Linked DNA regions of Homo sapiens: region 1 is reported to be linked to region 2. The links are microRNA targets in miRTarBase. Many come from high-throughput screens and were not tested one by one. Region 2 holds a microRNA gene; the other region holds the end of a gene's coding sequence.

Region 1 (4,390 bases), not on the chromosome of region 2:
TCTCAAGTGATCTGCCCACCCTCAGCCTCCCAAAATGCTGGGATTACAGGCATGAGCTACTGCACCTGGCCTCAACTATGCCTTTTTTTTTTTTTTTAAGACGGAGTCTTACCCTTGTCACCCAGGCTGAAGTCACTGCAACCTCCACCTCCTGGGTTCAAACGATTCTACTGCCTCACCCTCCCGAGTAGCTGGGTTACAGGCGTACGCCACCATGCCTGGCTAATTTTTGTATTTTTAGTAGAGATGGGGTTTCACCATTTTGGCCAGGCCGGTCTCGAACACCTGACCTGAAGTGATCCACCTGCCTTGGCCTCTCAAAGTGTTGGGATTACAAGCATGAGCCACCACGCCTGGCCTTTCAACTGTTCTTAACAAAGAGAGTACAAGGGCTTGAGGTACTGCCACCAGATGGCTCATCAGCCGACCACAGCCTCCCTTATAGAGCACAGTCCTGGGTGGGGGTGGCATGTTAGGATAGGAGAGGGAGCAGCAAGGAGCTGTCATGACTGACCCCGGGTGTCCCTATTTCTTCCCAGGGCTGCACTTGGGGCGTGGCATACCAAGTGCAAGGGGAGCAGGTAAGCAAGGCCCTGAAGTACCTGAATGTGCGAGAGGCAGTGCTTGGTGGCTACGATACCAAGGAGGTCACCTTCTATCCCCAAGATGCTCCTGACCAACCACTGAAGGCATTGGCCTATGTGGCCACCCCACAGAACCCTGGTTACCTGGGCCCTGCGCCTGAAGAGGCCATTGCCACGCAGATCCTGGCCTGCCGGGGCTTCTCCGGCCACAACCTTGAATACTTGCTGCGTCTGGCAGACTTCATGCAGCTCTGTGGGCCTCAGGCGCAGGACGAGCACCTGGCAGCCATCGTGGACGCTGTGGGCACCATGTTGCCCTGCTTCTGCCCCACCGAGCAGGCTCTGGCGCTGGTGTGAGGGGCTGAGCCCCTGCGGGGAGTGCTCATGTGGACATCAGGGCCAGACACCCACTCCAGTGCACAAGACAGACTTGCGACCGCTTGAGCCCACTGAGCAGATATGGTGGGTGGCTGGAGGCTTCTCTTTCTCAGTCCCTGCCTGTCTGCCAGCCTGCAGCTCTCCTGCTTGACACTGACTTACTACTTGAAACTTTATTTATTGCACCATGTTGGTGTGGTGGGCAGGTGGAGGGCCTGCCCTGGACACAGGGGCCCTGCTGAGCAGTGGCCCCATCCTGGAACTTGACCAGATTCCCCCCAGTGCTGCTGCTAACCCCACACCACCCAGGCCTCCACCTCCCCAGGGAGTCTCCAAGAGCCTCGATCCTCTGCTCACTCAGCCCAGCCATCCATAGCCCTGGGAATTCCACCTGCCAAGGATCCCAGCAGGCTGGATGAGGGATAGTAGGGCATGAGGAGAAGGAGCCCTGTAAGGACTGAGGCCCCGGCCAGCCCTTCTCCTCCACCAGTTCCCCAGAGCAGAGCTGGAGCTGATGCCTGGACACAGCTGCTGAGCCTGGCCTGGGCCTCTTACCCACTTGGTTGTTTTCTTGTCCCTCTGTCTGTCTGTCTATCTACTTGTCTGTCTGGGCCACTCCTGCCTGTGTGTTGGTCTATTCCTGGGAAGCTCATCACTACAGGCCCTGGCAACCTTCCCAGTCTGTCCCATACTGTTACCCATAAAACTATCTCTTTATCTGTGCTGTGCCGGAATGTGGTTCTTTCTCAGATGGGGGTTTGGGGCAAGTGAGGTGGTGATGCCCTGGAAGGCTCCTAAGAGGGGAAAGGGCTCCCTCTTCCTCTCCTTCCCTCTCTTCCCAGGAGGGGCAGCTGGGCAGGCAGAATTAGCAGGTGACATCACTCTCATGGGTACAGTTCATGCCTTACGCATGCAAATAGTACCCCCTGAGTTGTGCAGAATTCAGCTCATGCTCTACTTGGCAGCCCTGTGAGCAGTGTCCTTGCCACCAACCTGGACTCTGTCTCATCCTGCCCAGCTGCCCCAAGGAGGCTGGCAGGCTTGGAGCTCAGACCAGCTCTTCCTCCAGCTGCAGGGCCAGCGGCTGCCTCTTCCTAACAGCTAGGCCAGAACCCTGGTGTCCTGCTAAAGGAGCACGTGGGTTAGGGTAGGGTGATGACAACTTCTAAGGCAAGGCTAATGGCAGGGACCTGTAGCCTGGAGGACCTGGTGTCCCTTTTACTTTCAGAGTCTGAGTGCTCACTGTTGCCTCCGGGAGTGTGGTGTTGCCTGTGCCTTCCCCATTGCCATCACCTGCCCTGGTTTACCCACACTGGAATGCGGGCCCCAAGTTTACCCCCTGCCTGTCCCCAGATGTTCTTGTCTAGCCCTTGGGGACAGATCACAGCTCCAGGATCTCAGCCTGGGCCTGAGCTCCTCATCAGGAGTGGCCTCTTAGTGCTACTCAATCCCTGAACTTGCAGAATGGGGCAGACCCAAAATGACAGGCTCTAGCAGCAGAAGAGCTTGAGGCCAAGGGCTGGGTGTGGTGGCTCATGCCTGTAATCCCAGTACTTTGGGAGGCCAAGGTGGGAGAATCACTTGAGCCCAGGAATTCGAGACCAGCCTGGACAACACAGTGAGACCCCATCTCTATAAAAAATACAAAGGAAATTAAAAAAAAAAAAAGTGCCTTGAGAGTCCAACCCAGCCTCCTCCTCATTGCCCAGTCACCTCGGAAAAAGCCTTCAGCCCCCTGGGTACAAGTTCACTGTGAGGGGACGATGCCGTGGGATGATGTATGGGGCAGGCTGGGTGGTATGTGTTGCTGCTGTTCTTGCGGCTGGTGTCCTGGATTGGTCTGGGTGTCTCCAGCAGGGTCAACTCCGATCAGGTTGTGCAGCCGTTGTGGCTGGGGAGGGTGCCATGCCTGGGCCGTGTGCTCATGTCTTGGCGGCCTTGTGTCTTGGCCATTGATGGGAAGAGTGTGGAGTCCAGCCAGCTTCTTCTGGGTGCCTGGTGAGGGCAACACAAAAGGAGGAGGCAGCAGGTGGCAGGGAGCCCTGGGCAGCTGCCTCCTGTGTTTCCTGGGCCTCTTGCCAGACAGCCAGAGCACAGCCCTGCTCCATCCTGGGAGCTGATGGTGGGGAGGGCTGCTTGCCAGCTGCACGTAGGGGGCTTTCACCCATCAAGCCATTCGATCAGCAAGTATTTCCTTAAGCTCCCACTGTGTGCCATGCACCATTCCAGGCACGGGGATACAGCGGTAAAGAACTCCTCCTCCTCAAGGAACTTGGAGTCTAGAAACTGATGGTGACCATTCAGCGTGGAATGGGAGAAGAGGGCCTTGAGCACCCAGAAAGGGCTTCTGACTTGAGCAGGGCAGTCAGGGAAGGCCTTCTTGGCTTTCTTGGAGAGGGAACCTGAGAAGGGGCCTCTGAGGAACAGAGAGTAAGGGAACAACACGTGCCTGAGGGGAGGCAAGCTCAGACCAGCTGGAACAGAGTGGCCCGGACAGGAGACACGAGCCAGACAGGTGGCAGGACTGCCGGCCTGGTGAATTGCGCTGTGCCATGCTGCGGGGTGGCATTCCTCCTGGGTCAGTGGGGGCCTCTGGTGGATTCTGAGAAGGGCAGAGATGTGCTTAAGAGAGAACACTGGCTGAAGTCAGATTGGAGGAGAGAGGCCAGAGGGAGCTGTAGGGTGCCCAAGCTGAGGTGTGCCAGTGGGAATGGACAGTGGAGGGATTGCAGAATTGTTTAGGGGTGAGGTTGACAGCATTTGGTGGCTGGTTTGATGAGCAGAGTGAAAGGAGGGTAGAGACAGTAGGGCTGGGGCTCCTGGGACAGTGGCAGATCTGGAAAGAGTCGGGGGTAGATAGCCTTGCGTTTAAGTTAGGGGTGCCTGTGAGGGGAGGAATGACTTCTACGGGGATGTTCAGGGCAGCTGGATATGTTGGTGTGGGAGTCAGGAGAGAAAGCTGGGCTGGAGTTAGAGACTTGGGAACCATACATGTGGAGACTGGGCTTAAAGCCCTGGTAGGGGAGGAGAGGAGAACAGGGCCCGGCCAGGCCCTGAGGACCCCAGCCGCGGTGGTCTGAGCAAAGCAAGAAGAGGTGTCGGGAACAAGCGCTGGAGAGGTAGGCGGAGAACGAGGAGAGGGCAGGGTGAGGAGAGCCAGGGTGGAAGGTGTCTCCAGGAGGTGCACAACATGGTCATGTTGCCAAGATGGCCAAGATGTCAAGAGAAACGAGGACAGAAGAGTGTCCACTGGATGAAATGCCAGGGGGGGTCCCTTGTGGCTTCAGTGAGAGCAATTTCAGGAACAGTATGGAAAGCCACAAGGCAGGGCTGAGGGGCCAGTGGGAGGGGAAGCAGCTTTCAGGAAACATGGTTGCTAAGAAGAGAGAGAAACAGGGATAACTGAGGGCACAGGAGTTGCGGGGGTC
Region 2 (4,390 bases):
CCATCCATCTATTCATCCATCCATCTATCCATCCACCCATCCATCCACTCATCAATCCATCCATCCATCCATCCATCCATCCGTTCACCCATCCATCTATTCATCCATCTATCCATCCACCCATCCATCCATCCACTCATCAATCCATCCATCCATCCATCCATTCACCCATCCATCTATTCATCCATCCATCTATCCATCCACCCATCCATCCATCCACCCATCCACTCATCCACTCATCCACCAATCCATCCATCCATCCATCCATCCATCCATCCATCCATCCATCCACCCACCCATCCACCCATCCACCCATCTATCCATCCATCCATCCATTCACTTATCCATCTATTCACCTATCCATCCATCCATTTACCCATCCATTCATCCATCCATCCAACCATTCATCTATTTATCTATCCATTATCCATCTATCCATCCATTCATCCATGCATCTATCCATCCACCCATCCATCCATCCACCCATCTATCCATCCATCCATTCATTCATCCATCTGTCTATCCATCTGTCTCTCCATCCTTCCATATATTTATTCAATAAATCTGTACTGAATTCAGACACTTTGAAGGTGCTGGGGATTCAGCATTAACAAAGTCCCTGCTCTTATGATGATCATGTTTCAAGTGTGGGAACAAACACATAAATAAATAAAGGTCAGATGATGGAAAATATGACAGAAAATATAAATCAGGGTAAAGGCATATGGAGTTCTGGAGGGGATTGATATTTTACGTATGATAGCCTCATGGAAATAAGTAATTCTTTCCTTGGGTCTTTATATATGAAAGCCTCATGGAAAGAAGTAATTCTTTTCTTATTTGAAAAGAGATGAGAGAAATGGGAGGAAGTGTTCCTGGAAGAGAGTGCAAAATTCCTGATTTAGTAGTGTCTACTCACACATCCGTCTTTCTAATAGTTTACTCAGCACGGATTCAATTGTCTATTGATTCATTATCTATCTATCTTTCTACTCATCTCTTGTTATATCCACCCACGTATCCATCTATTCATCTATTATCCATATCCATCCATATGTCTACTTCTCCTGACATCCTTCTATTAATCTTTCCAATCATTTATATGTCCATATTCCAGCCATCCAATCATCCACCCATACATAATTCCATCTCATGTGTCCTTCCATCAATACATTCATTTACCCATTTATACACCCATTCATCCATCATCCATTCATCCATAAATCCACTCATCTTTTGTTTTGGTACATTTGCTCATTTAGCTGTTGGGCTGATGATCAGCCAATATGCACAGGTACAACACAGTTCAATATAGGAATATATATAATCAGCACCCATTCCAGTAGATTCATATTTGTACCACATGCTTTGTTAAATATTCTAAATATCACATCTGCATTTATCTATCCACCCATCCATTCGTTCTTTCATCCAAACATCCATATATACATACAGATGTTCTTCTGTCCATCCATCTATTTTTTGTTCATCTGCTCATTTGTTCATCCATTCATCAATTACTAAATAATTCTTTCTATTTATGCATGAGTTATACTCTATTTATACATGAGTCCATCCAACCCATTCATTCATCCACCCCATCCATCTGCCCATCCATTCACCCACCTGTCCATCGATCCATGCACCTATCCATCCACTCATCCCTCCATCCATCCACCCATCCATCCATCATTCAATTATCCATCCATCCATCATTCAATTATCCATCCATCCATCCATCCATTTGTTCCTACTTCCTATCATTCTTCATTCATCTTTCCATTCATTCATACTGTTCTCCATAATTGATTCTTTTCTAATCTTTATTTTTCCTTTCTTATGCAACTAAGACATGGTTCATAAGCTCATGGCCCAAGGATAAAGCAGACCACCATGGCCCAGGAGGCTGAACACCTCAATAGAGCCTAAGCAGGGGCTACAGGGGCAGGGATCTGTCTTCATATTGACACATTCTCATCATCCCCGACACATACCTGCGAATGTATGTTCACAGAGCAGCATCCCAGTGAAAGGTGCTTTGAGCACTGAGAGAGCCCATGGGGACAGGGGAGGTCAGGGTGGTGGCCTCATTGGCTCCCGAGTGATCCCTGGTGGATAAATGTCTGTGATTTAAAGAGGAGGCAGCCTCCAAATGCTTGCAGCATGCATCTGTTCAGTGTGGCCCTCTGTTCAAGCAGGCACTGCTGACAGCAGGAGAATGGGCCAGAGCCACGGGTAGGGGGCAGGGTGGTGGGTCATGGGTGCTGGGGGCTGGGGGCTGGGGGCTGGGGGCTGGAGGCTGGGTGGTGAATGGTGGGTGCTGGGTGGTGGTGATGAAGCTCAGATTTTGGTTGGGACTGGGTCTAAGAGAAAGGCTAAAGGATTATTTCTAGATTCATCTGGAACGAATTGGCTAGATCCTTCTATCCCAAGTCCCATTGCTTTTCTGAGGGGAGGTACCTGGGACAGGAGGAGGAGGCAGCCTTGCCTCAGAAACCAAACTGTCAAAAGTGTAGGTTCCACTCAGGAAGGAGGAGCACAGGCACTTTTGAGATGAGGGGGACGTGCTCTTCTCTGGAGCAGAAAGAAGCAGTAGGTGAGGTCCCACCTGCCAGGGATGGAGCAGGAGAGTGACCCCTGCATAACCTTGAATCCTCATCTGCAGCCCATGAGCAGCTGGAGACTGGGGACTCTGGGAAGGGTACTGGGCTTAGAAGCCACCCCCTGCCCCAGTGGACAGAGTATCCTGGACACCTCAGCCACTCTCCCTGAGCGTGTGGTGTGTGTAGAGGCCCCTGCGTCTATACCACTGCTCCCAGGGAAACTGGGAACCCAGGAAGTATGCTGGAACCCTTCATGCTGTGACCTACAAATGCCCCACCAGAGCGGCCCTGCTCCAAGCACTGAGGTCAGGGGCCCATGTGCCTGCCTCCTCCTGCCGGGGGATACAGGGGACTCAGAGGCCCTCCCTGCCACAAACTCCCTTCCCCGACAACCCACAAGCAGCTTGGAGGCAGTTAGCAGATGGAGTTAGGATAGGACTTGCCTGGCCCCAAGAAAGGGCCAGGGGCTTTCCTCCTGCCACCCCTGCTCAGCATCTCCCTCCTCCCTTGTCTGCCTGTGTCTGGCACTGGTGGGGCCGTGCTGGGTGGGACACGGCTAGGAGGCCTGGCTTTCTCAATCCCCTAATCTCCTATCAACCCCACCCCCATGCAGCCCCTCCAACCTCTTTTCAGGTCCCTAGATGTTGGGGAGGGGATGGGGGCTGGGCCGGCTGTAGAGAGTCTAACCCTGGGGAAGGGGCCCTGCTGGGCTGCCCCCTGGCCGAGCCTCTCCAGCCCGCTCGCTTCCCTCTCTTCTAAGTATCAATACAGCCTCGTCCACAGCCAGGGCCTGGTTCTGTCTGCCTCAGCGCATGTGGAAAGCCCTCTTCGATTGCCTTATGGTCCTGGGCTGCCATCTCCCAGAAGGTCTTTAGTGGCCCCCAAAAAGATGCTGAGGGCTGGGATTTGGGCGGGGCTGGGCTGGAGGGAAGTGGAGGACCTTGCTGGTCCTGCAGCGCCCGGTCCCAGTTCCGCTTTTCGGGACGGTCCCTTTAAGTGCTTGCTGAGCTTGGGCCATGAGCAGTGCTCTGGTGCTCTTGGGAGCCTTTGAGTCCAGAGTGGCTGGTGTGTGGTGTGGGGTCAGAGAGACCCCGGGAAGGGCAGCCCAGCCCAGCTCCCTCCTGGTGCCCGCAGGTCTTGTGGGCCCTCAGCACCCGAACCCCACAGGGGCAAGGACTCAGGCCCCTCCCCAGGCAGGGAGCAGCCCTTGGACAATGCACTTGGCCCCTGTGAGCCTCGGTTTCCGTCTGTGAAATGGGAGGCTCCAGGGACCTGCCTCACAGCTCCGGGGGATGAAACAAGAGCCTTGGTTTAAAAAGCTTGGCAAAGGCAGGGCGCGGTGGTTCATGCTTGTAATCCCAGGACTTTGGGAGGCTGGGGCGGGTGGATCACCTGAGGTCAGGAGTTCAAGACCAGCCTGGCCAACATGGTGAAAGCCTCTTCTCTACTAAAAATACAAAAATTAGCCGGGGGCAGTGGCAGGTGCCTGTAATCCCAGCTACTCAGGAGGCTGAGGTGGGAGAATCTCTTGAACCTGGAGGGCGGAGGTTCCAGTGAGCCGAGATTGTGTCACTGCACTACAGTCTGGGCAACAGAGCGAGACTCTGTCTCAAATAAATAAATAAATAGCTTGGCAAAGACTGGCATGGAGTGAACGCTTGGTCTGAGTGGCTACATTCTGAGTGTGCAGATGGGGAAACTGAGGCTTCAGAGGGGTGCGGCTTACTCATCCAGAAAGCACTCCGAGGGCCTATAGCAGCCGAAGCAAGGCCAGCCCTGGGGCCTTG

Evidence for each region. The annotated mature microRNA hsa-miR-4298 reads CUGGGACAGGAGGAGGAGGCAG and lies in region 2 at 2,461-2,482, shown strand. An mRNA with a match to its seed (bases 2 to 7 or 8) in the 3' UTR can be bound and repressed. Matches are read on the target gene's strand: a 7mer-m8 pairs with bases 2 to 8, a 7mer-A1 pairs with bases 2 to 7 and ends in A, and an 8mer does both.
Region 1: the mRNA of CHAC1 is a reported target of hsa-miR-4298. Seed matches in the 3' UTR shown: 7mer-m8 at 1,645-1,651.

Annotation. Positions count from the first base shown.
Region 1 is chr15:40,954,834-40,959,223 of GRCh38, forward strand. CHAC1 (ChaC glutathione specific gamma-glutamylcyclotransferase 1) reads left to right here. Exons shown (of 3, transcript NM_024111.6): 3 at 540-1,679. The coding sequence ends at 941. Among named protein-coding and RNA genes, the nearest start is that of CHAC1, 3.6 kb to the left of the region's middle. RefSeq lists enhancers at 866-1,416, 2,919-3,455.
Region 2 is chr11:1,857,597-1,861,986 of GRCh38, reverse strand. MIR4298 (microRNA 4298) reads left to right here and starts at 2,451; the gene lies at 2,451-2,523. All of the region lies in intron 1 of LSP1 (lymphocyte specific protein 1), which reads right to left.